Linked DNA regions of Homo sapiens: region 2 is linked to region 1. The links come from fine-mapping of genetic effects on gene expression. A gene starts in region 1. The other region holds a variant in brackets. All regions are shown on one strand. Distances are from middle to middle. Region 1 holds the start of GNB3 (G protein subunit beta 3). Region 2 holds the start of CD9 (CD9 molecule).

Evidence for each region. PIP is the estimated chance that this variant, and not a neighbour inherited with it, causes the effect.
Region 2: its variant is fine-mapped to the expression of GNB3 in nucleus accumbens (GTEx, PIP 0.96).

The regions. Positions count from the first base shown.
Region 1 is chr12:6,834,188-6,846,144 of GRCh38, reverse strand. It overlaps GNB3 (G protein subunit beta 3), which reads right to left and starts at 5,220. Exons shown (of 10, transcript NM_002075.4): 1 at 5,112-5,220; 2 at 4,801-4,887; 3 at 4,521-4,559; 4 at 3,069-3,175; 5 at 2,908-2,971; 6 at 2,620-2,782; 7 at 2,447-2,513; 8 at 2,167-2,368; 9 at 343-559. The coding sequence starts at 4,857. It overlaps P3H3 (prolyl 3-hydroxylase 3), which reads right to left. Exons shown (of 15, transcript NM_014262.5): 10 at 9,059-9,160; 11 at 8,572-8,722; 12 at 8,296-8,413; 13 at 8,112-8,187; 14 at 7,005-7,145; 15 at 6,298-6,848. The coding sequence ends at 6,684. It also overlaps a transcript of CDCA3 not described here.
Region 2 is chr12:6,185,117-6,200,446 of GRCh38, reverse strand. CD9 (CD9 molecule) reads right to left here and starts at 47. Exons shown (of 8, transcript NM_001769.4): 1 at 1-47. RefSeq lists enhancers at 1-562, 563-1,175, 8,679-9,364, 9,365-10,050 and a silencer at 6,302-6,351. The variant A/G (reference allele first, on the strand shown) is at 6,456.

The DNA of each region.
Region 1 (11,957 bases):
GCCTTGATTCCATGTTTCCCTGAGGCTGTCTTGCCTCTCAGTGGGTGCCCCTGAAATGCCAGGAACCCAGAACTGACTGGACAGTCATGGTCCACAGATCTCCTAGGGCAGGGAGCAGTCATGGCATTGGGCAGTGGAGAGAGGCTGCTTAGAGCAACACTGAGGGAAAACAGTCCTAGTTGGGAACCAAGGGGTACTGGATTCCAGGGGTGGAGTCACCCAGTGACAAGGGACAGCAGTAAGAGAGTCCGAAATGGGAGCTGATGGGGGGTACAGAATGGGGAGGGAGGGCTGGGGAGGGTCCTTCCAGCTGAGGAAGCAGCAGCCAGGGCTGGCCCTTACCCACACGCTCAGACTTCATGGAGTCCCAGACATTGCAGTTGAAGTCGTCGTAGCCAGCGAATAGTAGGCGGCCACTGAGGGAGAAGGCCACGGACGTGATGCCGCAGATGATGCTCTCGTGGGAGAAGCAGATCAGCTCCTGGTCTGCCCGCAGGTCAAACAAGCGGCAGGAAGCGTCATCCGAGCCCGTGCAGATGGCCTCTCCATTGGGGAAGAACTGAGGGCACGGGTGGCAAGTGGGTCAGGGATCAGACCTGGGCAGCCCACAGCCTCTCCCGCCCTCTGCCTCCCACCTGACAGCTCCAGGGCAAGCCGCTGCTCTCAGCCTCCCTGCCTGTCCCTCCCTTGGTTTGGGGTGAGAAGCAGCCCTGCCAACACATACCACGTGCCAGTGACTTCCCTATGCCCCTCGCCCGCTCTGCACTATACAGCGCTGCAGGCAGGCATCATTTCCACGTCGCAGGCAAGAGCACCAAGGCTTGCCTGCAGTGACCCGGCTAGAAGGGCGGACGGAGGTTGTCCCAGACTCCCAGACTACACAAGTGGGCTGGATCAGGGTGTGTAAGAACAGGGTCCAGTACAAATGCAAGGCCTGGATCTCACGGCGAGCAAATGTCAGATAAGCTCAAACGGAGGGAGAGTCTACAGAAAACTGGTTTGTACTCTTCAAAAACGTCAATGACATAAAAGACAAAGGTGGGAAAACAGTTCCAGTTTAAAGGTGGTGACGAAAAAGATATGGCGAGGAAAGGTAATGCACGTTTCTGGATTGGATCCTGGACAGAAAAAAACATGAGCTATTATGGACATTTTTGAGGCTATTGGTGAAATTTGAATATAGACTGTAGACTGTAGTATTGTGTCAATGTTGAGTTTCCTGATCTTAAGAATCATACAGTGATTATGCTACAGAAGGGCTTTGTTTCGGGAAGTACTTAAGGGGTAAAGAAACATGATGTCTGCAACCTACTTTCAAAAGACACAGAAAGAAAATGTATATCTACATCTAAGTGTGTATGTGTGTGTGTATCTATGGCTATTTCTCTACAGAGAAAAAATGATAAAGCAAACGTGATAAAATGGGCTAGGCGTGGTGGCTCATGCCTGTAATCCCAATATTTTGGGAGACTGAGGCAGGAGGATCGCTTGAGCTCAGAAGTTCCAGCTCAGCCTGGGCAACATAGTGGGAACCCATCTCTACACAAAAATCAAAACATTAGCCAAGCGTGGTCACACGCATCTGTAGTCCCAGCTACTCAGGAGGCTGTGGTGGGAGGATTGGTTGAACCCTGGAGGTTGAGACTGCGGTGAGCTATGATAGCACCACTGCATCCAGACTGGGCAACAGTGTGAGACTCTGTCTCCAAAAAAAGGAAAGAAAGAAAGGGCTAGGGAAGACTGGGCACAGTGGCTCACATCTGTAATCCCAGCACTGCACTCTGGGAAGCTGAGGTGGGAGGATCACCTCAGGTCAAGAGTTCAAGACCAGCCTGGCCAACATGGCAAAACCCCATCTCTACTAAAAATACAAAAATTAGCCGGGCATGGTGGCGCACACCTGTAATCCCAGCTACTCAGGAGGCTGAAGCAGGAGAATTGCTCCAACCCAGGAGGCAGAGGTTGCAGTGAGCCAAGATTGCACCACTGCACTCCAGCCTGGGCGACAAAGTGAGACTCTGTCTCAAAAAAAAAAAAAAAAAAAAAAAAAATACAGTAAGAAAGGGCTAGGGAAGCTATGGGAGGGGCAGAGGATGTGTATTGTATGTGTTGTGGGGAGTGTCGGGGAAGGAGTTGGAGTGAAGCTGGGGTGGGGGGTGCACTCACACAGATGGCGTTGATGTCCGACTCGTGGCCAGTGAAAGTCTGACGGCAGGTCCCCTCTCGCACATCCCAGAGCTTGGCACTGGCATCACAGGCCCCCGAAATGAAGAGATTGAAGTCAGGAGACACAGCCAGGCTCATGCAGTCACCCGTGTGTCCCACAAATACAGTCTTCTGCTGCCCAGTCTCAATGTCCCACAAGGCACTGCCAAAATGGAGGGAGACTGTTAGAGAAAGGCCGGGCCCACTCCCAAGCCCCAGCACCAGCAATGTTCAGCCTCACCACGTGGTGTCCCCCGAGCTGGTCACAATATTGTTGTCATCCAGGAAGCGGCAGCAGGAGAGATAACCTGGAGGCGGTTAGAAGGACAGTGCCCTGGCTGCAGAGCCACAGCCCACTGGAAGCCCAGGGTTCCCTGAACCCCTCAGGAGGGGAGGAGAGGGTCTCTCCCTCACCTGTGTGAGCAGAAAGCTCCCGGCTGACCTTGACATTGCCCTCACGGGATTTGAGGTTGTAGATGGAACACATGTTGTCCAGCCCCCCACATGCCACAAAGTTCCCTGATGGGGCATAGGCACAGGTCATGACCCAGGAGGAGCGCAGTGGGATGGCGTGCACCTGCAGGGAGGGTGGTTTGAGCAGAGATGGGACCGGAGCCAAGCTCCCAGCTGGGCACAGGAGGGTAGGCATGGCGCCCTTAGGAAGGATGCAGTGGTGGAGGCTCAGGGAGGCAGGGCTGGTACCTTGTTGGTGGTGTAGCTGTCCCACACGATCAGCTTCCCATCTTGCGAGGCACTTACCAGCAGCCTGGGGAGAGGGCATCCCATATCATGCAAGCCTCCCCTTCCCGCCTTCCTCACTCCCGCTCTCACCCTCCCATTCTCGGTTCCCCCCCAAGCCTCACTTAGAATCAGTGGCCCAGTGCATGGCGTAAATCTTGGCCAGGTGTCCCCTTAACGTCCGCCGCGTCCGCATCTGGACTCGTCCCACCACCTCTAGGCCAGACACCAGCTGCAGAGAGAGGGGCACTGAATATCAGGGTGAGCAGGTTACGTGCCCAGATGTCTGTCACTGCCACTGATCTATACAAGTTCCCGCTCTGTGCCAGGCTCTAGGTCAGGCCCCCAGCCTTAGAGAAATAAGTCTCTGCCCTGGAGTGTCTTAGACTGATGTGGGAAAGAGATGCATGCATGGCCAGAGGTGTGTTGCTTGTAAGTGTTTAACAAGCACCTCTCCAGTGTTGGTGAGGAAGGTGGGAAGGTGATTTCCACGATACGAATACTTGCACTTTGACCAGTTTCCAGCTGCCAATGTGAGGTCATTGGAAACAGATTTGGGAAGAGATGCACAGAGCTGGCTCTCCCAAGCCGAGAGGAGCCTGCTTGCACCCACCGCTGCAGCACGGCTAGCTTTTTAACTGGGTGCCTGGGGCATCACCATGACCCTGAACTGTACCTCCTGAAATCTGTGGTACTATGCCCCTTGAGCTCTAACCACATTTTAGACTTAGGCTGGGGGTCCAGAGTGAACAGACTTGATTTGCCATCACTTGCATTGCTATCTTTTTTTAAAAAGTTAAAAGCAATTTTTTTTATATTAAGAAGAGATCTCACTATGTTGCCCAGGCTGGTCTCAAACTCCTGAGCTCAAGTGATCCTTTCACGTCAGTCTCCCAAAGGGCTGGGATTACAGGCGTGAACCACTGCGCCCGGCCTGCTTTGTTATCTTGGGCAAGTTGCTTCACCTCCCTGAGTCTGTTTACTCAAGGTGTAAAATGAGGCTTATCATAGCACCTACCTTACAGAGATATCATGAAAATTCAATGAAATCAGGTATTTATGCAGCTTAGCCCAGTATCTGGCTCATAAAAAGTGTTCACTATTAACATATTTAATCCAATCTAAGATGCATCACTAAGAAAGAAAAGATGCTGTCAATTCTAATTGAAACAATGATCCATTGCTGAATGCACCTTGATTTCAGAGATGTCAAAATGTGAAGAAATGTGCATCTTAGAATTGACAAAATACAGCATAGAAAACTAGCAGCTAGAGTCTACAAGGGCTTTATAATTTACAAAGTACTATCGCTTCTTCATCTTCAAGGCCCTGGGAGGGGGCTGTGGTCACTCTTGTTCTACGGATGAGAATAGGAACCGTGTCCGCATCTTTCGCATCCAATATGGTGCCTGGCTCAGAGCAGGTCCCGCTAAAATGTTGGTCGAATGAATTAATTAATGGGTTTCCTCACTCCAAGGACGTGCTGTACTAATGCTCGGAGCAACGCGCTATTGCGGGTCGGGGAGCTCCCTTCCCCTCCCCCCATGCCCTGCCTTCCGGGGGACAGGGGGTCTTACCTCTGCCAGAGTAACGTCAGCACAGGCTTTCCTGGCATCCTGCAGGGAAAGCAGACATCAGGGGAGCAAGGGCGAGGTGGGGGTGGCAGGTGCATGGGCCTTCAGGGCAGGTTGGTCTTGGGGCTCTGGGGCTTGGGGGTCTCAAATATGCGAACCAAGTTTAGAAAGTCCCTGGTCACTTCTAGTCACTCAAGAGCAAACCCAGCCCCCTCCCCCTGGGCCACGCTCCTCATGTCCCCAGCTGTTTTCTGGGGCCCCAGGGGTAGGGCTCTGGAGTTACTGCAATCTGCTTCTTGAGCTGCTCCGCTTCCTGACGCAGTTGCTCCATCTCCCCCATGGCTGACAGGTCGAGGGGTCACTCTGGCTCCTGCCAGGAACATGGGGTCGGTGTTGAGGAACCCCCCACCAGGCTGTGCTTCTGCCCTTCGTGCCCACACCAGACTCCAAGACACAGGGAAACGACTGGGTGGCTGCACCCTCTCCCCAGCTAGGCCCTCCAAGTTTGAGGTCCTTTGCGTCCAGCCCCAGCCTGCCTGAGCCCTGCCTGCGCCCCAGCCCAGGAGAGCAGAGCCCAGGCCAGCTCCCTCTTACTTGGGCTCTGGCTGGACCTCGGCCGGGTTTCCAGCTCCGGTTCCTGGGAGCCTCCTTACTCCCTCAGCTGCGACGCCCGCGCCCGCCCGTCACCTGCCCAGGCTCTGCTGCCAGAGGAGCTGGCCTGGCCTGGCCTGGCCCCGACCGGCGGGGGGTTGGGGGGGCCTGACAGGGAAGGGTAGAGCCAACCACAACGTCAGGCAAATGAAATCAGCTGGCAGGGGTGGGGGGAAGGGGTGGGGGGAGGGAGGGAGGTGTACGGATTCCAGAGAGACTTGGGCCCAGCCGGGAGGAGGGTTGGGGGCAGGAGTGTGGGGCCATAGAGAGGGGCAGCCCCCACCACAAGCCCTGAGAGAGGAGGGGGTGAAGGGGTGCTTCCCTGGTCAGTCTCTGCAGGCAGAGATAAGAGCATCAGGCCCCACAGGATTAGAGCAAAGCTGTGAGGATTAAGGGTTGGGGTTTGGGAGGGGTGCAAAGGAGCAGACAACTACAGCTCCAGTGGCCCCCCTGGTCCCGGCCCCCATCCATGGTGATGATCTTGGCAGTCAGGGCCACTTAGCAACCAGGCCAGGAGGTGGGATATAAGGGTGATAGATGGCCCCATTGTCAGTACCTCAAACTGTGCTCCTCAGCTCAGGGTGGTGGGGAAGAGGGTTTGGTGAGTATGGGAGGGTACAGGCAGGAGCTGAGATTAGAAAGGACTGATCTGGATAATCCTTCTTCTCGACAAACCCCAACCAGCTGCCTCTGGGTCTGATCCTGTTGGGGGAGAAAGGTACAGGGGACCCACAGAGAAGGATGGACAGGTCTGCCCCTATTGTGGGCGGGCAACGGATTTCAAGTGGAGGGAAGGCCCGCACGCTGCTCCCAGGCTGGGGTCTGGCCCCCTCCTTGCCCTCTCGAGGCTGTGAAAGCAGGGGTCAGAGAGAAAGCAGGCGGCCCTAAGTCTCAGCAAAGCTCAGAGAGGGAAGACAGGGCTTACACTTGGAGGCCTAAGGAGCAGCTGCCAGGGGCTTGGGTCATTTGCATGAGGGGAGCAGGTGGCTGAGATTTCCCTGACAAATCACAGGCTCCAGGCGCCCCGCCTCTGGGAGGCCCAAAGACACCTGTCTCCTCCCAGGCCAGCCAGAGCCACCCCCACCTCCAGCCATCACAGAATCTGTGATACACTTGACTGGCCCCTGGCTGAGAGATCTTCACGACCTTTATTGCACAGACTGGGAGAGAGGAGCAGGGTTATACCTCCCAACCCCACCATCCTCTTCATTTAAAGCATCAGCCTCCTCCCCTGCCATTTCTGTTCAGGGAGGCACAGTGTTCCCCATCTGTCCAGGGCTGCAGGTCCGGCAGCGGGGCCCCGTCCCAGCTCCCCAGGCCTGGTGAGCTCCAGGCTAGCCTGTGCACTGTCCTCTGAGTCCAGGCCCTTGTAGGTCCCCAAGATGGTGGGGGTGCAGGGACAGAGAGCTTGCTGTTCTGCTCCTGATGTCACACAGGGGCTTCCTGTGTGTCCTGGCATCAAGATGGCCTTCCACAAGTCAAGTGGCCACATCCTCAAGGAGCTGGCTCAGCCACTCACAGCTCCTCCCGAACCCGAGGTGCCCTTCCAGTCTTGTCTTGGACCCTCTGGTGCCTGCGGCTAGGGGGCTCTGGGGAAGGGTCTTTGCTGGGCATTTCTTCCTCTTCCTCTTCCTCCTCCTCCTGTGACTCCTGCAGCAGTTCTTTGGCTTCTATCCACTCCTGGGGTTGGGGAGGAGAGTGTGGCCCATTCCCTGCACCCACCTTCCCTGGGTCAGCTCAGCCCCTGACCCTCACCGACTGTGAGCCTTCTCGGGGGCTCCTTGCCCACCCTTCACGCACCAGGAGAACCACATCCCTTCCTACCCCGCTCCTTACCTGCTCCCTGTGCTCAGGTGCCCACGTGTGCCACAGTGCCAGGGCACAGCGCCGTCCCCGAGTCACGGCCCACACCCCATGGGGATTCTCGACACCGGAGCTGAAGGCCACAAGGCGCCCACAGCGAGGACGCACCCGAGCCTGGAGGGATGAGGGCAGGTTCAGCTCCAGGGATTGGCTCTCTCAGAGAACTTGGCCCTCACTCCCTAGAGCAGGATGGGGACAGGGGCACAGAGAGGATCAGCTCTCTCGCTACCACTTCCTACTCCTTAATTCAGGGACTAGCTTGGGGCAAATGAGAAATCAGCTTCAACTTGCAGAGCAAAAATGCAAGAGGAGTTGGGAACCAAAGGAAAAAGGGGTCTCCACGGATGGTCTCCTGTTGGTTCCTGACCCCTGGTACCCTGATTTTTCCCACTCAGCCCTTTGAATCCAGGGCTTGAAGCAATCTGGGGCTGTGCATGCAGTACCAGACTCTATGCAGAAGGGGATACAGATATTGGAACCATTTTCACACCCCACACCCAGATGAACAATCACTGCCCCTCTCCTCCTACCCAATCCTAGCCCCTGGTGTCCGGAAATTTCCCACCTAACATTCATTAATTGCTTATCATTACCAGGCGCTGCCTCATTCTTTTAGGTACATTACCTAAATTACTTCCTACAATGACCCTTTAAAATACGTACTATTATTATCACCCCAGTCTAGGAAACTAAACCTCAGAAAGGTTCAGAATCCGAGCCCCAGTCAAGGCGGCCCTGGTATCTGTGCGCCAGCCACTGTGCTCACCTCGCTGCAAAGAGGAAGGACTATTTCAAGTTCCCCAAATCCCTAGAATAGGGCCATGGAGTCCTGGAGGCACCTGCAAGCTGTGCTTCATTCACCCTTCTTTAGGAGGCGAGACAAATACTGATGGTAGGGTTGATTCGGCCACTTAGAGACCTTGCTACGGAGGAAGCAGCGGGAGGGCTGCGGAGGCGGGGAAGTGAAAGGGTTAAAAGCCCTGGCCATTTCCCTGCATTTGCCTCTGGAGCCTTCTGTTTTGAATCCTGACCCCACAGCTGGGCCCTTTGTCACACCGTCACACCCCCCACTCCACGCACCGTGACAGTGAGGGCGTTGGGCTCCGTGAAGAACAGGTCCCCACCCTGGAAGTCATCGTTGAGGTAGAGGAGTCCGCTGGGGAGGGAAAAAAGCAAGAGGCAGTGAGACCCCAACCCAGGCCCAGGCCGGCAGTGGGATGACCTTTGTCTGCCCACCTGCCTGACCACTAGAGGGGCTGCCCACCTGTAGTCCCGATAGGTGTAGGCTGGGGGCTCCCGCCAGCACTCTCCCGTGTCAGGGTCCAGGACGCAGTTGTCTGCGTGCACTGGGTGACTCAGGTCCATGCGCTGCTCTTGCTCTCCTAGGACACAAAGGGGTCTGGGGGTACCTCTGTGCCCCTGTGCCCATCTGCCACCCTGTGGGCTCAGGCCGTGCACGTCCACCCCGGGGCTCTTGGGGGCAGTGTCCTGGGGGCAGGGCCTGAGGTTGGAGAAGAGCAGTGGGGGGTCCCTGTCGTACCTTCTATGGCGCTGCGGCACACCAGGTGGGTGAAGGACAGATGCAGGGGCCGTTCCGGGGAGAAGTAGGCCTGGGTCAAGGTCCGCACCCGCTCGCTCACCTCCAGAAGCAGCTTAGCACCCTGACTGCCCACTGTCCCAGCCCGGGCCAGCTGCAGGCAGTGAAAGGCAGGGCAGAAAAGGAGGAAGGCAAGGGGAGGGTGGTCTCGGCCCTAGCCCCTGCCCAACTCTGCCGCTCTCCACCCATGGGTTTGGAGTCTGTCAGCATCCAGCTCTGTCCATCAGCCCAAACTGCTCCTTCTCTCTCCATGACAACAACCCCGGCCCCAGCTCTCAGAACATCCCTTTTCTCCACGCTGGGTCCTATCAGGTAGTCTCGGTCCCAAGAAAGCTCCTTCACAAAAGCCCAGGCCCTGGGGCCCGGCTTCCTGCACAGCCTCTCCTCCAGGTCTGGGCATCAGACGGGCCCGGGTGCCTCCTGTGCTCACCTGCGCAGCCTTAAGCACCGTGAGCCCCTCGAAGCGTTCATGGGGGGTGTGAGGGGAGCGGCGACCACGATAGCCAGACCTGGCTCCAGCCCCAGCTGCATCCTAAATAGGAAGGAGTTTACCGTGGAGTCACTCCCCCAGCCCCTCACTGTCTGCAGGGCTGCAAGACCCTCCCTCCGGCCCTCCCGCTCTCCAGAAGAAGCTAGATGCTCCCACAGTTCTGTTGTGGCTCGTCTTCCTGAGCTGCTGCTCTTTCCCAGAGAGTGCCCACCGCCACGGCTGTCCGATTGTCCCTCTCTGGTACGGGCTGGAATCCCGCTTACTAAGGGGACTGTGGAGAGAACTCGGGAGAGCTTCCTACAGCAGTAAGGGGGCCTCTGAGAGGGTAGGGACAGCTGGAAAAGTGGGGCAGAGCTGGGAACTAGGCAGGAAGGGCTTGATCATTAATCCCCGATGAGCCAAGAATAGAGGAGTCCCTCTGGAAACAGGACCCTAAGAGGAAGTTCCACAGTTAGGCCAGACTGGCGGTAGGGAGACAGCATCAGCGGGCTATCCCTCTCTGACCTCTTCCCACCTGACATGCTCTCGGAGAAACTGTGGACTCCGTGGCTCCCCCACTCCTTGATACTGAGTCACAACTACCCAGCCACCTCCGCGACCACTCTCACTACCTGGGGGTCTCCTAATATCTGGATGTCTACACTGGAATTATTCGCTTTTCTGACACCCGTTTTTTGTCTACTTTTTGAATTTGTTTAAGCACCACTATCTAGTTACGCCTGCATACAAATCTCACTTCTGAGAGACACCTAGTCACCCAAGCCGTCTAACCTGGGGTTTTTTTTTTTTTTCATTTTTTGTTTTTGAGACGGGGTCTTGCTCTATCGCCCAGGCTGGAGTGCAGTGGCGCCATCATAGCTCACTGCAATCTCCACCTCCCAGGCTCCAGAGGTCCTCCCACCTCAGCCTCCCAAGTAGGTGGGAACATATAGGCGCATAGGCCCAGCTAATTTTTTGTATTTTTGTAGAGACGGGGTTTTACCACGTTGCTCAGGCTGGCCTGGAACTCCTGGGCTCAAGCCATTCGCCTGCCTCAGCCTCCCAAAGTGCTGGGATTACAGGTGTGAGCCACCTCGCCAGCCAACGGTGGCATTCGTCAATTACTCCCCTTTTCCGGGTCTTTCTCCCACTGCATTCTACAGACTGCCACTAGAGGGCTCTACCACTCCTACAGGTGACTCCAGACCCTGCACCTGATTCCAGGTACTACAGGAATGCAAAAGTCAACCGTCCTAAAATCCTGCAACAGCTGTCTACCATACACAGATAAAGCCCAAACTCCTTGGGAGGCCACAGAAGACACTCACTGTCCCTCGGCCTTCATGTGTGGGCTCTCTCCCTCTTTCCCTATACTGTCTCTTGGTAACATACACCCTGATGATTCTATGTTCTTTTTTAATTAATTAATTAATTAATTAATTATTTAAAAAAATTTATTTTTCGAGGCGGAGTTTTGATCTTGTTGCCCAGGCTGGACTGCAATGGTGCGATCTCGGCTCACTGCGACCTCCGCCTCCTGGGTCCAAGCGATTCTCCTGCCTCAGCCTCCCCAGTAGTTGGGATTACTGGCACCTGCCACAATGCCCACTAATTTTTTTGTATTTTTAGTAAAGACCGGGTTTCACCATGTTGGCCAGGCTGGTCTTGAACTCCTGACCTCAAGTGATCCACCTGCCTTGACCTCCTAAAGTGCTGGGATTACAGGCATGAGCCACCACACCCAGCCAGTGATGATTCTGTGTTCTAAGAGCTTTATCATGTGCTAACTCATTTAATCCTCACAACGACACTATGACAAAAACACTATTATTATCCTCATTTTATAGATGAGCAAATTAGGCTCAGAGATGTTAAAATAAATTGCCCAAGATCACACAGGTAATGACTATGGAGCTGGCCCTGCTCTCACCCCTGTGCTTGACTGCAGTTCCCAGAATGCACCATGCTCTTCTCCCTCTTAGACTGATTCCACCCCCAATCGCCTGACTAACTCATCCTTAAGACTGAGCTCAAATACCACCTCTCCAGCAAGCCTTCTATAACTGCATTTCAGTGCTTCTATTTGACATACTTTTTTTTTTTTTTTTTGAGATGGAGTTTCGCTCTTGTTGCCCACGCTGGAGTGCAATGGCACGAGATCAGCTCACCACAACCTCCGCCTCCCGGGTTCAGGCGCTTCTCCTGCCTCAGCCTCCCGAGTACCTGGGATTACAGGCATGTGCCACCACGCCTGGCTAACTTTTTTGTATTTTTATTAGAGACAGGGTTTCTCCATGTTGGTCAGGCTGGTCTCGAACTCCCAGCCTCAGGTGATCCACCCACCTCGGCCTCCCAAATTGCTGGGATTACAGGCATGAGCCACCATACCCAGCCCAAAAACATACTTCTTTTACCAAACTTACCACCTGCTTATATTATGTATTTCCTTGTCTGTTTCCACCTCTACACTTGAGCTCCCAAAGGGCAGAGTCTATAATCATCTTCCTCTCCCTAGAACCTAGCAGTTTCTAGTGTATAGCAGCTACTCAGTGAGTATATTACTGAATGAGCACTAACCTAAGATAAGGGTTGAAGCTTCATAAAATGGTAGCCTCAACCTGGTGAGTATGAGTCATTCAACCTAAACTAGGAGGGAAAGAAAGGCCTGCGTGTCTGCTGAGCCATCAGCCAAGCCAGTAACTAAACTCTTGGCTAACCAAGCAATCCTTACCTGCACACTCATCCATTTTTATGCCTTCATGTTTTTTGTTTTGTTCTTCCTATCAATTTCTAGCAAAATTCATTTGTAAAGAACATCCACCTATGTCAGCTAAATTAAGACGAGACGGAACTTATCCAC
Region 2 (15,330 bases), 650 kb after region 1:
CAGCTGGGACTGGCGGGACCTGGCGCTGGATACAGATGCAGGCGGCTGTAGGCTGGTCTCCGGCTGCACTTTTAAAAAGTGCCACTCCTTAGGGCGCGCGACCCGCTGCGGTGCGCATGTGCCGGGAAAAGCCGCCCCCACTCCCCCCGCCGGCCACGCCTCCCGCCCCACCGGCCCCGCCCGGGCCGCACCCCCCCCGCCCCCCGCCCCCGCCCAGGTCGGCGAGCCCCGGCCCCAGCTGCCCCGCGGAGCCCGACCCTCTCCCTGTTTCCCCGCCTAGTCGCCCTAACCCCCACCCGCCACCCACTCCTTCTTCAAGCCGTCTTGGGGTCTTTGCAGGCAGCCACTCCCTGCCACTTTTACCGCGGACTTACGTGGAGGCCTCGCCCTTCCGGTTCCCCCGCGTTTGGTCTGGGCGCCGGACCGGGCGTTCTGCTTTGGGAGACTCTTCCCCGGGTCGTCAGGGCTAAAGGCCCCTTGGCCAAGGCCTGCTGCCAGAGTGAGGGGCCCTTCTGCTTTGCGAGGATTTAAAGGGAAGCCGCCTGGCTTAATTTCGCCCTCGTCTGTCTCCTTGCAAACCTTCGCTCGCTGACCATACTTTTCATTGGGCACAGCATGTGGGGTAGGAGGAATTAGAAGCGCGCAGTCTGGGTGGGATGACAGATGGGAGGCTTTTGGAAGTAATTAGCAAATACCTATCACCGAATAATAACACAGCTGAGGGCTGGGCAGTCCCCAAGCGCTTCCTGCACTTGAGGTTTAGTTGCCCCAGAGGGAAAAAGGGTCTGTAGACGGCTTCTGTTTTCTCTCTACTCCTCCACCCCACCCTCCCTCCTGCGTCTTTGGACTTGCTCGCTGCTGCCTTGAACTGCTCCAGATGCCGAGCTCGGAGCGCTTCTCCTGAGCTCACAAACTTTCTGTAGCTCTCCAGATTCAAGGACCTAAGTCGAAATTCCTCGTCTTGCCCTCAAGGCCCTGTACAGAGCACTGATCTGACTTCTCCCGGACCCAGAGCCCACCCCACTCGCTGGCCGGCATGCGCCCTGGCTGGCTGGCCCCCCCCCAACGTCACTTGTAGGAATTCTGTGGGTCTTTAAACACTCCTTTCCTGATTCTCTGGAGTGGACGAGGAGAGTCACCTTCTTTTGAAGTCCCCGAATCCCTTTGTATTATTTTCAAAATGAAGTTTCCTTTACTGTCCTTTATGATTACAAAAGCAAGATACAGTCATTACAGAAACAACCGAAATACCAAGAAGTGAAAGGAACAGACCTCAAAATTCTGCTCACCAGAAACAGCCACTGTTAGCACATTGCTGTTATTTGCCTGTTTATTATCAGTAGACTTGTCTCATTGGTTCAAAAACATTTTTCAGTATCTATTAGGGTATTTCATTAGGGGTAGGAGCTGAAAAACATGGATTAGTCCTTGTTTCTGCTCAGGGACCAGTGTGGGAGGAGACAGGCAGCCAGACAATGGTTTGAGGGTGATAGGTGCAGTTACGGGGAGAGGCTTGGGGGCTAAGAGGCTAAGGAGAGGCCTCTGACCCAGACTGGGAGATGATGCTGCAGAACCACAGGGAAAGTTGCCGCCAAGGGAGAATCCTGGGCAAAGGCTGGGGCAGGGGCTGTCCGGGCTCTGGGCTGGAGCCTGGAGTCACGGGGTAGTTTGTGGGAAGGTGAGAAAGAGCCTTGTGCTCCTGGACTTTGCACTCTGAGCATTAGGGGCCACCGAAAGGTTCAAGCAGGGGAATGGTTGGATCTGCTGTGTTTTCAGAGGTTCTCTGCCTGTGTTTTAGGTAGTTGGGTGGGGGAAGGCCGGAGGGGCAGGTAGGAAGCCCCTTGAGGACCAGGACCATTGTTGGCATCTCCAGTCCTTGGCTCAGTGCTTTACGGGATTGCATGGAACATGGAGATGTTGTATTTGGGGAGACGCAATCAGGTAATATGAGGGGAGCAGTGGTAGATGAAAGTTGAGCTGAGGACCAGGTGCAAATCTGCTAGGAGGCTGTGGAGTAGTTCAGGTGAGAGAAGAATGAATGAAGGCGGGGCAATGGGATAAAGCCTAGAGAAGGCAGGGCAAAACCCCATGAGGTGTCAGGCCGGGAAGGGGAGGGAGAGATCAGAGGCAGAGCAGCAGAAGCTAGTAACAAGTAGGGGCACAGGGCACATCCCCACGTCAATCTGAGTCCGAGAGGCTCCCCAGAGCAGGGGACATTGCAGCAGCTGACTTGACTTGGGAAGGTGGAGTCAGTAGTCAATGCGGAGGAGGGAATTCCAAGAGGGAACTGGATATGCAAAGACACAGAAGCGGGCAGCTGGCTGCACTGGGGAAACAACCGATAGTGGTACATGGGGAGGAAGGAGGACAAGGAAGGAGAGGCAGGGCCTAAACTGAGCCTAATGCCAAGAGGACAAGCAGAGGAATTTTGGTGATGCTTGACTTTACACATCCTAACCAGTGTCCAGGATGATTCCAGCACAGGGGAGGAGTGTGAAGCACCCTGGAGGGTGGGAAGGAGGCCGGAAAACAGTCAGTGTTCCATTGTGCCCTTTTGGGCCTGCGTCCATCTATCTTGGGAGACAGGTCTTAGGAAAAGAAAGATTTTATTGCATCTCCCCCTTCTCCCAAGTTAACAAGTACTGGTGGGAGGAGTTCAGTAAATATTTAAGTTTATAATAGAAATTACTTATTAGGGTAAACGTGAGTGTTGACAGAGGAAATCCACAGGGAGGCCTTAGAACCTGCCTGCCACAGAAGCGCTGCAGAAACGCTGCCTGTTGCTCCTATTCCTATTATTGTTTACACTGAAGAAAGAATTGGGGTCAGCCTATATAGTTCAGTGCCACATTCGTATAATCAAGGCATCCTTTTTATGTGATGAGAGCATTGGGCCTGAAGTGAGGGGGTCTGAGTTCTACTCTTGGTTCTGACCCTTTGGTCTATGTTAGGCAGGCAGCCTCCTCTCTGGGCCTCAGTCTCCTCACCTGTACAAGAGTATTGTGAAAGGAAAATAAATCTTAGGACCCCAAAATCAATAAGCCAAAGGAAAAAATCAAGCTGGGAACTGCCACAGGCAAACCTGCCTCCCATTCCTAAATAAGATAGCTACAAAGATTTTTTAAAAAGCTATGCACTTCTCGGCCGGGCGCAGTGGCTCACGCCTGTAATCCCAGCACTTTGGGAGGCCAAGGTGGGCGGATCACGAGGTGAGGAGATCGAGACCATCCTGGCCAACATAGTGAAACCGCATCTCTACTAAAAATACAAAAATTAGCCAGGCATGGTGGCGCATACCTATAATCCCAGCTACTCGGGAGGCAGAGGCAGGAGAATCCCTTGAACCAGGGAGTTGGAGGTTGCAGTGAGCCGAGATCGCGCCACAGCACTCTAGCCTGGCGACAGAGTGAGACTCCGTCTCAAAAAGAAAAAACAAAAAAAGCTATGCACTTCTTGTTGGGCGCTGTGACTCACACCTGTGATCCAAGCACTTTAGGAGGCCGACGCGGGAGGATCATGAGGTCAGGAGATCAAGACCATCCTGGCTAACACGGTGAAACCTCGTCTCTACTAAAAATACAAAAAAATTAGCCGGGCGTGGCGGCGGGCGCCTGTAGTCCCAGCTACTCAGGAGGCTGAGGCAGGAGAATGGCGTGAACCCGGGAGGCAGAGCTTGCAGTGAGCCGAGATCGCGCCACTGCCCTCCAGCCTGGGGGACACAGCCAGACTCCGTCTCAAAAAAAAAAAAAAAAAAAAAAGCAGCTATGCACTTCTTTCACAATTTGCCCATGAGGAAATTTCTGGTGGACCCTATGATATTTGCCCTAAAACAGTTCTGTTGAATTTCACCATGACAATGTAAATTGATAGCATATCTTCACAGGTACAGAAAAAAGGACAGAACTCAAAGTCATCCCTCTGCTCACCTGAGACAAATGCATATCTGATTGCTTCCTCCAATGTAAAAATGAAGATTCGCTGTGCTAGACAAGGCATAAGTGACTTATTTCTCTACCCTCCTCTGCCATGTAAATTGTGCATTCAGTGAGAGGATGATCAGTGACTCAAAAGAATGCAACCGTTTGTTTCTTACCTACCCACACCTTAAAAAAACTTTCTTCCTCTTTCCCCACCAGCCGCCTTTTAAATATTGAAGCCCTCAAAATCATCTTTGCAGAAGGCACAGATCTGCCTCCTGGGCGCCCATCTGTAACCTTGGCAAAATAAACTTTCTAAATTGATTGAGACCTGTCTCAGATACTTTTTGGTTCACAGCATTTTGGATCAGGAGGTGTCTTTCATTCCTCCTGACATTCTGTGTCACAATAAACCCCTGGGCCAAAGTGCATTTGTTACAGACAGTTAGTGCTACAGGCAACCAGGAAGGTGAGCGATGGAAAAATTATGTTTTGCCTTAACCGGAAGAGGAAAATATGGGTAAGCCCCTGAGTCAGAAATCACATGGAAGCAGCCAGGCCTTCCAGGCTTTGTGGTGCTGGAGTGGGAAAGCTTTTCCTCCCTTCCCTCAAGGCGTCCTGTCTCTGGGAAAGAAACCCCAGCTCAGGCTCAGGGTCCACTTTGGCTCTTGTGCCCCCCCTGGTGGTAAGATTTGAACACGCAGAGGCCAGGTGACCTAATGAGCCGTCACACCCATGCCCCAGGTCCCTCCAGCTGTGGGCAATGGCTTTGTAAGGCAACAGGTAGGACCCTCGCTCTCACAGGCCACCAAGGCCCTTCCAGCCACCACACCAGTGGCCATCTTGATTCACCTCCTTCACTTCTAGAAGCTTCTCTCCTGTTCCTCTTTCTAAGCTCAAATACACCACCTTATGAAGCCTTCCTGGAGCACTCCAGTCTTTTTCTCCGTGGATTACCTTGAGTCTCGCATGTGTGATTCTCTGGTCATCATCATCTTCCTTTATGTGTCCACTTCTTGGTAGTGAGCTCCTCGAGGGTGCACTTGCATTTGATTAATTTCTGTGCTCTCCCTAGCTCCCGGTCCCTTCCTGGCCCAGAGCAGGCCCTCTGCAAACATCTGCAGAATGACGGCTGGGCGTGGGGCTTTCTCAGGCCCCTGCCCTTCTCTCTCAGACCTCTCCTGGAGCACTCATCCCCTTTTGTGCCTTCCACCATTTTCTCTGTTTAACTCATCTCTCTGTAAATGCAAGTCCTGATATCCAAGAGCCTGCAGATTTTTTTTTTTTGAGACCAAGTCTCGCTCTGTTGCCCAGGCTGGAGTGCAGTGGCTCAATCTCGGCTCACTACAACCTCCATCCCTGGGCTCAAGAGACTCTCTTGCCTCAGCCTCCCAAGCAGATTGAATTACAGGTGTGCGCTGCCATGCCCGGCTAATAATTTTTTTTTTTTTAGACGGAGTCTCGCTTTGTCACCCAGGCTGGAGTGCAGTGGCACGATCTTGGCTCACTGCAACCTCTGCCTCCCGGGTTCAAGTGATTCTTCTGCCTCAGCCTCCCAAGTAGCTGGGACTACAGGCGCACACCACCATGCCCAGCTAATTTTTGTATTTTTAGTAGAGACGGGGTTTCACCATATTGGCCAGGCTGGTCTTGAACTCCTGAATTCGTTATCTACCCACCTCAGCCTCCCAAAGTGCTGGGATTACAGGCGTAAGCCACCGTGTTTTTTATATTTTTTATATTTTTTATATTTTTAGTAGAGATGGGGTTTCCTCCTGTTGGTCAGGCTGGTCTTGAACTCCTGGCCCCAGGTGATCCGCCCACCTCAGCCTCCCAAAGTGCTGGGATTACAGGCGTGCGCCACCGTGCCTGGCCCGTTTCCACTTCTAACGGCCCTCCAAATAGGCCCACGTTCCAATCCCCAAAACTGTGAATGTGTTACTTTCCATGGCATAGCCTGGACCATCCCAGTGGGCCCAGTGGAATCCAAAGGGTTCTTATAAGAGACAGGTGGAAGTGTCAAAGCCAGGGAAGGAGATGTGACGACAGAAGCAGAGGTCGCAGTGATGCACAGCTGTGTGTTGGGGAACAAGGACAGCCTCTAGAAGCTGGAGAAGGCGAAGAAACGAATTCTCCCCTGCAGCTGCCAGAGGGATCCAACACAGCCCTGCCCACCCATTTTAGATTTCAGACCTCTAGAATTGTGAAATAGTAAATATGTGTTACTTTAAGCCACTAAATTTGTGGTTGTTACCGAAGCAATAGGAAATATAGTAATCTCAATGTAAACATCAAGATCAGAATTCATAATCTCCAAGGGCTTTCTAGGCTCGCAGCTGACTTTCTCCTCAGCCCTCCCTGTCTCTAATCAGTCAGCACCAACACCTCCCATCACCTGGGGCTCCTCCTTCCCCCAGCCTCACAGCTGCTTAGTGAATGTGATTCCTGTTTCTTAGCTGTTCTTACGTCATTGCTGGGAGGCACCAGGGCTAAGGCGGGTTGTAGTGATTGAGTGGCAGAGCACAGATCAGACCTCAG[A/G]GCTTCTGGTTTCAGTCCAGGGTTGGATCCTGATCTTTTGTTCCCCCTGATGCCCTGCCATCCGCAAGGGGGCTGCATCCTGGAAGCTCATCTGCAGCCCAAACGGCTGTTCTACCCTTGCCCTGCCTCGCTGCTGTTCACCTGCCCAGGATGGACACAACATTGGACCCAGAGAGTCTTGCTGCGTGCGTCCTTGGGGGTGGGCTGCCCTCCTCTCACCCATCACTTCTTTTCCTTGCATTAAGCACACACACACTCAACCTGGAAACTGCCTATGTCCAGTGTGGATTTTATGAAGGTTTCACGGATAGGTGGATGAGGGGTTCCCTCTCATATGCCAGAGAGAACCATTCTAAGAATCCCTCTGGATAGCTCTTCTCAAACGTCCAATCTGTGGCAGCCACCCCTATCATCTGCCCCCCAGCCCAGCCTCAGCCAGCCCCCTGCCCTGTGGATGTCCTCTGCATATGTCTGTGTGGAGCAATTTAGCTCTAAACTTGGCATTTTCCGTTTGTGTCCCCACCTCCCCTCACCCTGCTCAGCAAAACAAATCATGGCTCTCAGGGTCTGTCCTCCTTAGTATATGGGGGTTGGGGGCAGGCGGGGAGCAATTCTAAACAAGCAATATTTAATATCATCCTTTCATCAGACTCCTGAAGCTCAGCTTTACTCTTTCCTGCTCAAAGATCTCCCAACTCCCCTTACCCCTGTTCTACTTCCAAACAATGCTCCCATAGCATTTACCTTCTCACAGAGTGGAATGTTTCCTTGGTATGTGCATTGCTATTTACCTGTCTCCTCCAGCTAGAATGCAAAATCCGCATGGCTGTTCTGTTCTCTATGTATCCCAAGGGCTTTGAACAGTGCCTGACATACAGTAGGTGCACAATATTTATTGAATGTATGGAAAGCCGATGTCTCAATTGTAAGATCATCATACAGGCCCTCTGCTCTCTCGCCTTAACCTCTGTTTGCAAATCTGTTCACTCTTTTGGAATACCACATGCATCCCCAGCTCTATGCCTGGGTCCCCACCTCTTCTTTCCGAAGCCCAAGCTCTTGGCACTTCCTCCTTTCTGCCCTTCAAGCAGCCTGCACCATCTCTGAGGCCAGCCCAGCCCCTGCCTTCCCCAGCACCCTCAGTCATCTTAGTCTGCTCTGATCCTCTTTCTCAGGACACTCCTGTAGCAACTTCTTTCTGAATCATCCACTAGACTCTTACAAGATTTGTCCTGGGTGATAATTTCAGGTTTCATGCATCTGTTTAAAAGAGTTGGCTGGGCGGCCGGGCGCGGTGGCTCACGCCTATCATCTCAGCACTGTGGGAGGCTGAGGCGGGCGGATCACGAGGTCAGGAGATCGAGATCATCCTGGCTAACACAGTGAAACCCTGTCTCTACTAAAAATACAAAAAATTAGCCAGGCGTGGTGGCGGGCGCCTGTAGTCCCAGCTACTAGGGAGGCTGAGGCAGGAGAATGGCGTGAACCCGGGAGGCAGAGCTTGCAGTGAGCTGAGATCACACCGCTGCACTCCAGCCTGGGCGACAGAGCGAGACTCCGTCTCAGAAAAAAAAAAAAAAAAAAGATTAGCTGAGCGTGGTGGCAGGTGCCTGTAATCCCAGCTACTCAGGAGGCTGAGGCAGGAGAATCGCCTGAACCCAGGAAGCGGAGGTTGCAGTGAGCTGAGACTGCGCCACTGCACTCCAGCCTGGTGAGAGTGAGACTCCGTCTAAAAAAAAAAAGATTAGCTGGGCATGATGGCGGGTGTGGGGAAAAGAGAGATCAGATTGTTACTGTGTCTATGTAGAAAGAAGTAGACATAGGAGACTCCATTTTGTTCTGTACTAAGAAAAATTCTTCTGCCTTGAGATGCTGTTAATCTCAATGTCAAACTCAGGGTTAAATGGATTAAGGGCGGTGCAAGATGTGCTTTGTTAAACAGATGCTTGAAGGCAGCATGCTCCTTAAGAGTCATCACCACTCCCTAATCTCAAGTACCCAGGGACACAAACACTGCGGAAGGCCACAGGGACCTCTGCCTAGGAAAGCCAGGTGTTGTCCAAGGTTTCTCCCCATGTGACAGTCTGAAATATGGCCTCGTGGGAAGGGAAAGACCTGACTGTCCCCCAGCCCGACACCCGTAAAGGGTCTGTGCTGAGGAGGATTAGTAAAAGAGGAAGGAACACCTTTCTGCAGTTGAGACAAGAGGAAGGTGGGCAATGGAATGTCTCGGTGTAAAACCCGATTGTATATTCCATCTACTGAGATAGGGGAAAACCGCCTTAGGGCTGGAGGTGGGACATGCGGGCAGCAATACTGCTCTGTAAGGCATTGAGATGTTTATGTGTATGCATATCTAAAGCACAGCACTTAATTCTTTACCTTGTTCATGATGCAGAGACCTTTGTTCACGTGTTTATCTGCTGACCTTCTCTCCACTATTATCCTATGACCCTGACACATCCCCCTCTCCGAGAAACACCCAAGAATGATCAATAAATACTAAGGGAACTCAGAGGCTGGCGGGATCCTCCGTATGCTGAACGCTGGTCCCCTTGAGAGGTGACAGCGTGCTGGCAGTCCTCACAGCCCTCGCTCACTCTGGGGGCCTCCTCTGCCTGGGCTCCCACTTTGGCGGCATTTGAGGAGCCCTTCAGCCCGCCGCTGCACTATGGGAGCCCCTTTCTGGGCTGGCCAAGGCCGGAGCCGGCTCCTTCAGCTTGCAGGGAGGTGTGGAGGGAGAGGCGCGAGCGGGAACCGGGGCTGTGAGCGGCGCTTGCGGGCCAGCTGGAGTTCCAGGTGGGCGTGGGCTTGGCGGGCCCCGCACTCAGAGCAGCCGGCCCGCCCTGCGGGCCCCGGGCAATGAGGGGCTTAGCACCCGGGCCGGCGGCTGCGGAGGGTGTACTGGGTCTCCCAGCAGTGCTGGCCCACCCGCGCTGCGCTCGATTTCTTACTGGGCCTTAGCTGCCTTCTCGCGGCGCAGGGCTCGGGACCTGCAGCCCACCATGCCTGAGCCTCCCACCCACTCCGTGGGCTCCTGTGCGGCCGAGCCTCCCCGATGAGCGCCGCCCCCTGCTCCACGGTGCCAAGTCCCATCAACCACCCAAGGGCTGAGGAGTGTGGGCGCAGGGCGCGGCACTGGCAGGTAGCTCCACCTGCAGCGCTGGTGCGGGATCCACTGGGTGAAGCCAGCTGGGGTCCTGAGTCTGGTGGGGATGTGGAGAACCTTTATGTCTAGCTCAGGGATTGTAAATACACCAATCGGTACTCTGTATCTGGCTCAAGGTTTGTAAACACACCAATCAGCACCCTGTGTCTAGCTCAGGATTTGTGAATGCACCAATTGACACTCTGTATCTAGCTGCTCTGGTGGGGCCTTGGAGAACCTTTGTGTCGATACTCTGTATCTAACTAATCTGGTGGGGAGGAGGAGAACCTTTGTGTCTAGCTCAGGGATTGTAAACGCACCAATCAGCGCCCTGTCAAAACAGACCACTGGGCTCTACCAATCAGCAGGACGTGGGTGGGGCCAGATAAGAGAATAAAAGCAGGCTGCGTGAGCCAGCAGTAGCAACCCGCTCGGGTCTCCTTTCACGTGGTGGAAGCTTTGTTCTTTCACGCTTTGGGTCTGCACTGCTTTTATGAGCAGTAACACTCACCACGAAGGTCTGCAGCTTCACTCCTGAAGCCAGTGAGACTATGAGCCCACTGGGAGAAACGAATAACTCCTAGACTTGCTGCCTTAAGAGCTGTAACACTCAACGCGAAGGTCTGCAGTTTCACTCCTTAAGCCAGCAAGACCACAAACCCACCAGAAGGAAGAAACTCCAAACACATCTGAACGTCAGAAAAAACAAACTTCAGACGCGCCACCTTAAGAGTTGTAACACTCACCTCACCGCGAGGGTCCGTGGCTTCATTCTTGAAGTCAGTGAGACCAAGGACCTACCAATTCCAGACACACCCTGGGCCCCCTTTTTTTCTTTCTCTACACTTTGTCTCTGTGTCTCTTTTCCAAGTCTCGTTCCACCTAATGAGAAGTGCCCACAGGTGTGGAGGAGCAACCCATCCCTTCAGGCAGGTGCCTGTAATCCCAGCTACTCAGGAGGCTGACGCAGGAGAATTGCCTAAACCCAGGAAGCGGAGGTTGCAGTGAGCTGAGATGGTGCTATTGCATTCCAGCCTGGGCGACACAGCAAGACTCCTTCCCCATAAATAAATACTCTCCAGCTAGATTACCAGCTCCTGTTGTACCCACAGTAGGTACCTTCCAGACACTTAATGTAGTAGGTCTGAAGAACTAACACTTGCATGGGTACATAAGATGTAACTAATGCTGTTCTAACTGCTGTATATAAACTCAATCCACAAACAACCCTTTGAGGTTGATAGTTTTACAAATGGGGAAGCCAAGTCACAGGCGGTTCATGCTCTTGTTAGGAAGCAGCAGAGCCGGGATGTAAACCCAGGTGGCCTGGTTCCAGAGCCCAGGTGCTAAGCTGCTGCTTCCTGTGGTAGGTAAATGTGGACTGGCACTACACTGCCGTTTTTGCCCTTTGACTGTAGAGGTGGGTGAAGGGGCTGCAGATGACTCCTCAGCAGTTGTGCCATCTTGAAGGTGCCTCCCTGCAAGGCGACTCTGAGTCTTAGGGCTGCTGACAGGTGGTGAGCCTGCAATTGGGTCCTGCCTTTGCTGGTGCTTGTCTGTTCCTCTGAGGCTCGCTTTCCACAGCTGCAGAGCGAGGATGATTACTGCTCTTTCTCCACCATGAGGGGTGGGGATGGGCGGGTATGTGCCCAGGCAGCCTGCCCCTGGCTCAGTGGTAGGCAATGCCAGCCCATGGGTAGCAGCTGCAGCTTCTCTTCACTCTGTGGCTGCTGGCTTCTGTTCTGGTTGGTGGTTCTGGCTTCAGGTGGAGGAGCAGGGACTCTGGGGGCTATGTATTTGTGGTATTTCCTGCGTAAGAGGGTAGAGAAGCTGTAGGCAATTAGCATGGGGCTTGAAATTAGAAGTCACAGGTGCAAGCCCTACTGCATACTTACCTGGGAGCAGAGATGACCTGAGCAAGTCTCTGCTTTTCTGAGACTCCATTTCGTTATCCACAAAATGGGCTTAGTAAAAACTCCTACTTTGCTGTTGTAAGAGAGTCAGATGAAATCCTGGATGTGTAAGTGCTTTGTAAACTATAAGGGTGCTTATAAACTTGATTTTCAATTTTAATCTCAGTACAGGAGTAGTGGACTTGGTTGTTATAAAATGCTAAATAGCCCCAAGGCTTGGAGTCTTGGAGAATGTTGGCAAGATGAGCATTTTCAGCTCTGTCTTCTGAGTGTCTTTGCCCAGCATGCTAGGTCCTGTTCACCCCACATTTACTGAGCACCTGAGTGCTAGGCTGTGGGAGGTGCCCAGGATAAGCCACGCCCTAGTTTTGCTCATGAGAAACTCACCTCCTAACTGGTGATATAGGATGTGGTGGACGCCAATCATTAGATGGTAACAAGGCGAGGAAGAGTTAGGGAAGTGAGGAGTTGCAGGGGTCCAGATATCTGAGAGCAGGACTGACCAGGCAGCCGTAGCAAGACACAGGTGGGGACAGGGCAGTGCTGGGGGCCACTGGGCTCAGCTCTATGCCTGCTTCCCATTTCCACACAGCTTAGCCTAAGCTGGTCCTGAGAAGGTTTTATTCATATCAAAGGGCAAACGAAGTTGCTGAATCTATCTTGCTGACAGTTTCTTTGTGTCTCATATAATGTTTGGCTGATGCTCCTGAAACTATAAGCACCCAGAGGCAGGGTCGCTGTCTCTCCCAGCTGTATCTGGGGTGGGTTGGACAAAGGTCCCCCTAGAGGGCCAGTGTGTGTGTGCACACGTGTCTGCATGTGTGTCTGTGTATAAGAGATGGGACTTTCGTCTGTAGGTTCAGGTAGATATGGGCAGGTAAAATACAGTGAAGGTAAGAAGCTGTCACTAATGTCTACCTGTGGCCTGTGGGAAGGGTTTAGAGAGAGGGAGAATATGGCCATGGAGTCACTGCCTAAAGACAAAGGAAGTCTGAACCTCATTGTGTGGCACGGGCCTTTGTAAACCAGCCTCTGCTGACGTCCAGCACCTGATTTCCCACTCTGGCACCTTATATGCTCTAGCTGGTTTTATTTGTTTATTTTTGAGACAGGGTCTCACTGTGTCACCTAGGCTGGAGTGCAGTGGTGAGATCATGGCTCACTGCAGCCTCGATCTCACAGACTCAAACGAGACTCCCATTTCAACCTCCCAAGTATCTGGGACTACAGGTGCACGCCACCACCCCCAGCCAATTTTTGTATATTTTGTAGAGATGGGGTTTTACCATGTTGCCCAGGCTGGTCTCCAACTCCTGGACTCAAGGGATCTGTCCGCCTTGGCCTCCTGAAGTGTTGGGATTGTAGGTGTGAGCCACTATGCCTGGCCTGCTCTAGCTTTTAACAGCTCTACTTCCCTAAATACCTCGAACTCTCTTTCTTTCCCTCCCTCCCTCCTTTCCTTCCTTCCTTCCTTCTTCTTCCTTTCTTCCTTTCTCTTTTCCTCTTTCTTTCCTTTCTTTCCTCTCCCTCTGTCACCCAGGCTGGAGTGCAGTGGCATGATCTCAGTTCACTGCAATCTCCACCTCTTGCCAACCCTCTTTCTTAATAAACTTTTAATTTTGGAATAATTTCAGTTTAAAAAAAGTTGCAAAGATAGTGCAGCTTCCTTCTAATGTTAACGTCTTATATAATCGTGGTATATTTGTCAAAACTGAGAAATCAACATTGGTACAATACTGTTAACTAGACTGCAGACTTTATTTAGATTTCATCAGTTTTTCCACTGATGTCCTTTTTCTGTTCCAGAATCCAATCCAAGTTTCCACATTGCATTTTGTATTTTGCATTTTTTTTTTTTTTGGACATAGAGTCTCGCTGTCGCCCAGGCTGGAGTGCACAGTGACACGATCTTGGCTCACTGCAACCTCTGCCTCCCAGGTTCAAGTGATTGTCCTGCCTCAGCCTCCTGAGTAGCTGGGATTACAGGCACCTGCCACCAGGCCTAGCTAGTTTTTGTATTTTTAGTAGAGACCGGTTTCACCATGTTCGTCAGGTTGGTCTCGAACTCCTGACCTCAGGCAATCTGCCCGCCTCAGCCTCCCAAAGTGCTGGGATTACAGGTGTGAGCCAATGCGCCCGCCCTGTATTTTGCATTTTTTTAAATTCTCTGGACTCACTGGGCTCATTTCCTATTTCTCTGTTTTTGACCCTGTCATTCTCTTTCTCTACAATAACTTTCTTGTTTCCAGCAAACTCCTATTCATCCTGCAGAACTCCTCTCTTAAATTAGGGATAATGTTGGGAACTTGGTAGGATTGGGGTTTTGGGATCTGGCTGTTAACAATATTAATTGACACTCCCTTTTCCATACCCAGGATCTCATTTGATGCTGCTTCGGTTTTTATTGTGCCCTTCTTTATGCAAATACAAGCAAACACTAATAGATGTTATTCGCCATTCCACCTCTCCCAGCCGTGGTTACTAGAGGGAATGTGTTTAGAGGTGGCTCTCACAGGACTGTGCAGGTGGCTGGTGGCAGAGCTAGAGTAGGACTTGGACCTCCCGACTTCCAGTTTAGCCAACCCCTCCCCCGTCCTGCACATTCTGCGCATCTCCATTTTTCCCGGTTGTCCAATCTGGGCACGCTTTGGTTTAACACCTGGGTCTAGGAGTGTGATATGGCTCTGATGGAGGGATGGTGGGTTTCCTGTGGCTCTCCCACCCTACCCACATAGAGTGACTGCAGCACTCTTGACTTTGGGGACTTTCCTCAGGGCTAAATTGTATCGCTGGCATTCCCACCACTTCCCCACCCACCTCCAAGCAGGCCAGGAAGCCAGAATGTCAGAGCCTAGACTCCCCAAGTCTGTTCACCACGTGTAGCTTTGGTGGGGCCTTCTGCCTCCCATCCGCTCCAGCCCAGAGCTCCACTGAGGCTTCCCCTCACCCACCACTTTTTGGGACCCCTTGGGAGCCTTATCTCCATGAAGCATTAGATTTTTATTTTAAATTTCATTTAAAAATAGATCATTTGTTTATATAACTGAAAAATAAAGATACAAGAGAGGGAAACGTGTTTCTCCTGGAAACTGTTAATCTGTAACAGAGATTTAGGAGTTCTGTCCACCAAGGGCAACGTGTGGGCCTGATTCTTGAATCCTGATGCAGACAGACCAGTTATTAAAAAAAAGGTTTTGTAGGCAGTTAGGGAAATTTAAATATGGACTAAGGACTAGATGATGTTAAGGAAATATTGTTAACTTTCTTACGTGTGATGATGGCATTGTGGTTATGTGTTTTTTGTTTTTGTTTTTTTTTCTCTCTGAGACGGAGTCTCGCTCTGTCGCCCAGGCTGGAGTGCAGTGGCGCGATCTCGGCACACTGCAAGCTCCGCCTCCCGGGTTCACGCCATTCTCCTGCCTCAGCCTCCCCAGTAGCTGGGACTACAGGCGCCCGCCACTACGCCCAGCTAATTTTTTTGTATTTTTAGTAGAGACAGGGTTTCACCGTGTTAGCCAGGATGGTCTCGATCTCCTGACCTCGTGATCCGCCCGCCTCGGCCCCCCAAAGTGCTGGGATTACAGGCATGAGCCACTGCGCCCGGCCATGGTTATGTTTCTGAGAAAACCGTATCTCTTAGAGATACACGCTGCAGTTTTTATGGGTAGAATGATATGATGTCTGGGATTTGCTTTAAATTGTTCAGTCCCCTTCCCAAAAAGTGGAGAGATAAAATGCAATAAGAATGCAAAATCGTTGATGCTGAGCGATGAGTATATGGGATTCATTATACTGTTCTCTCTACTTTTGCGTG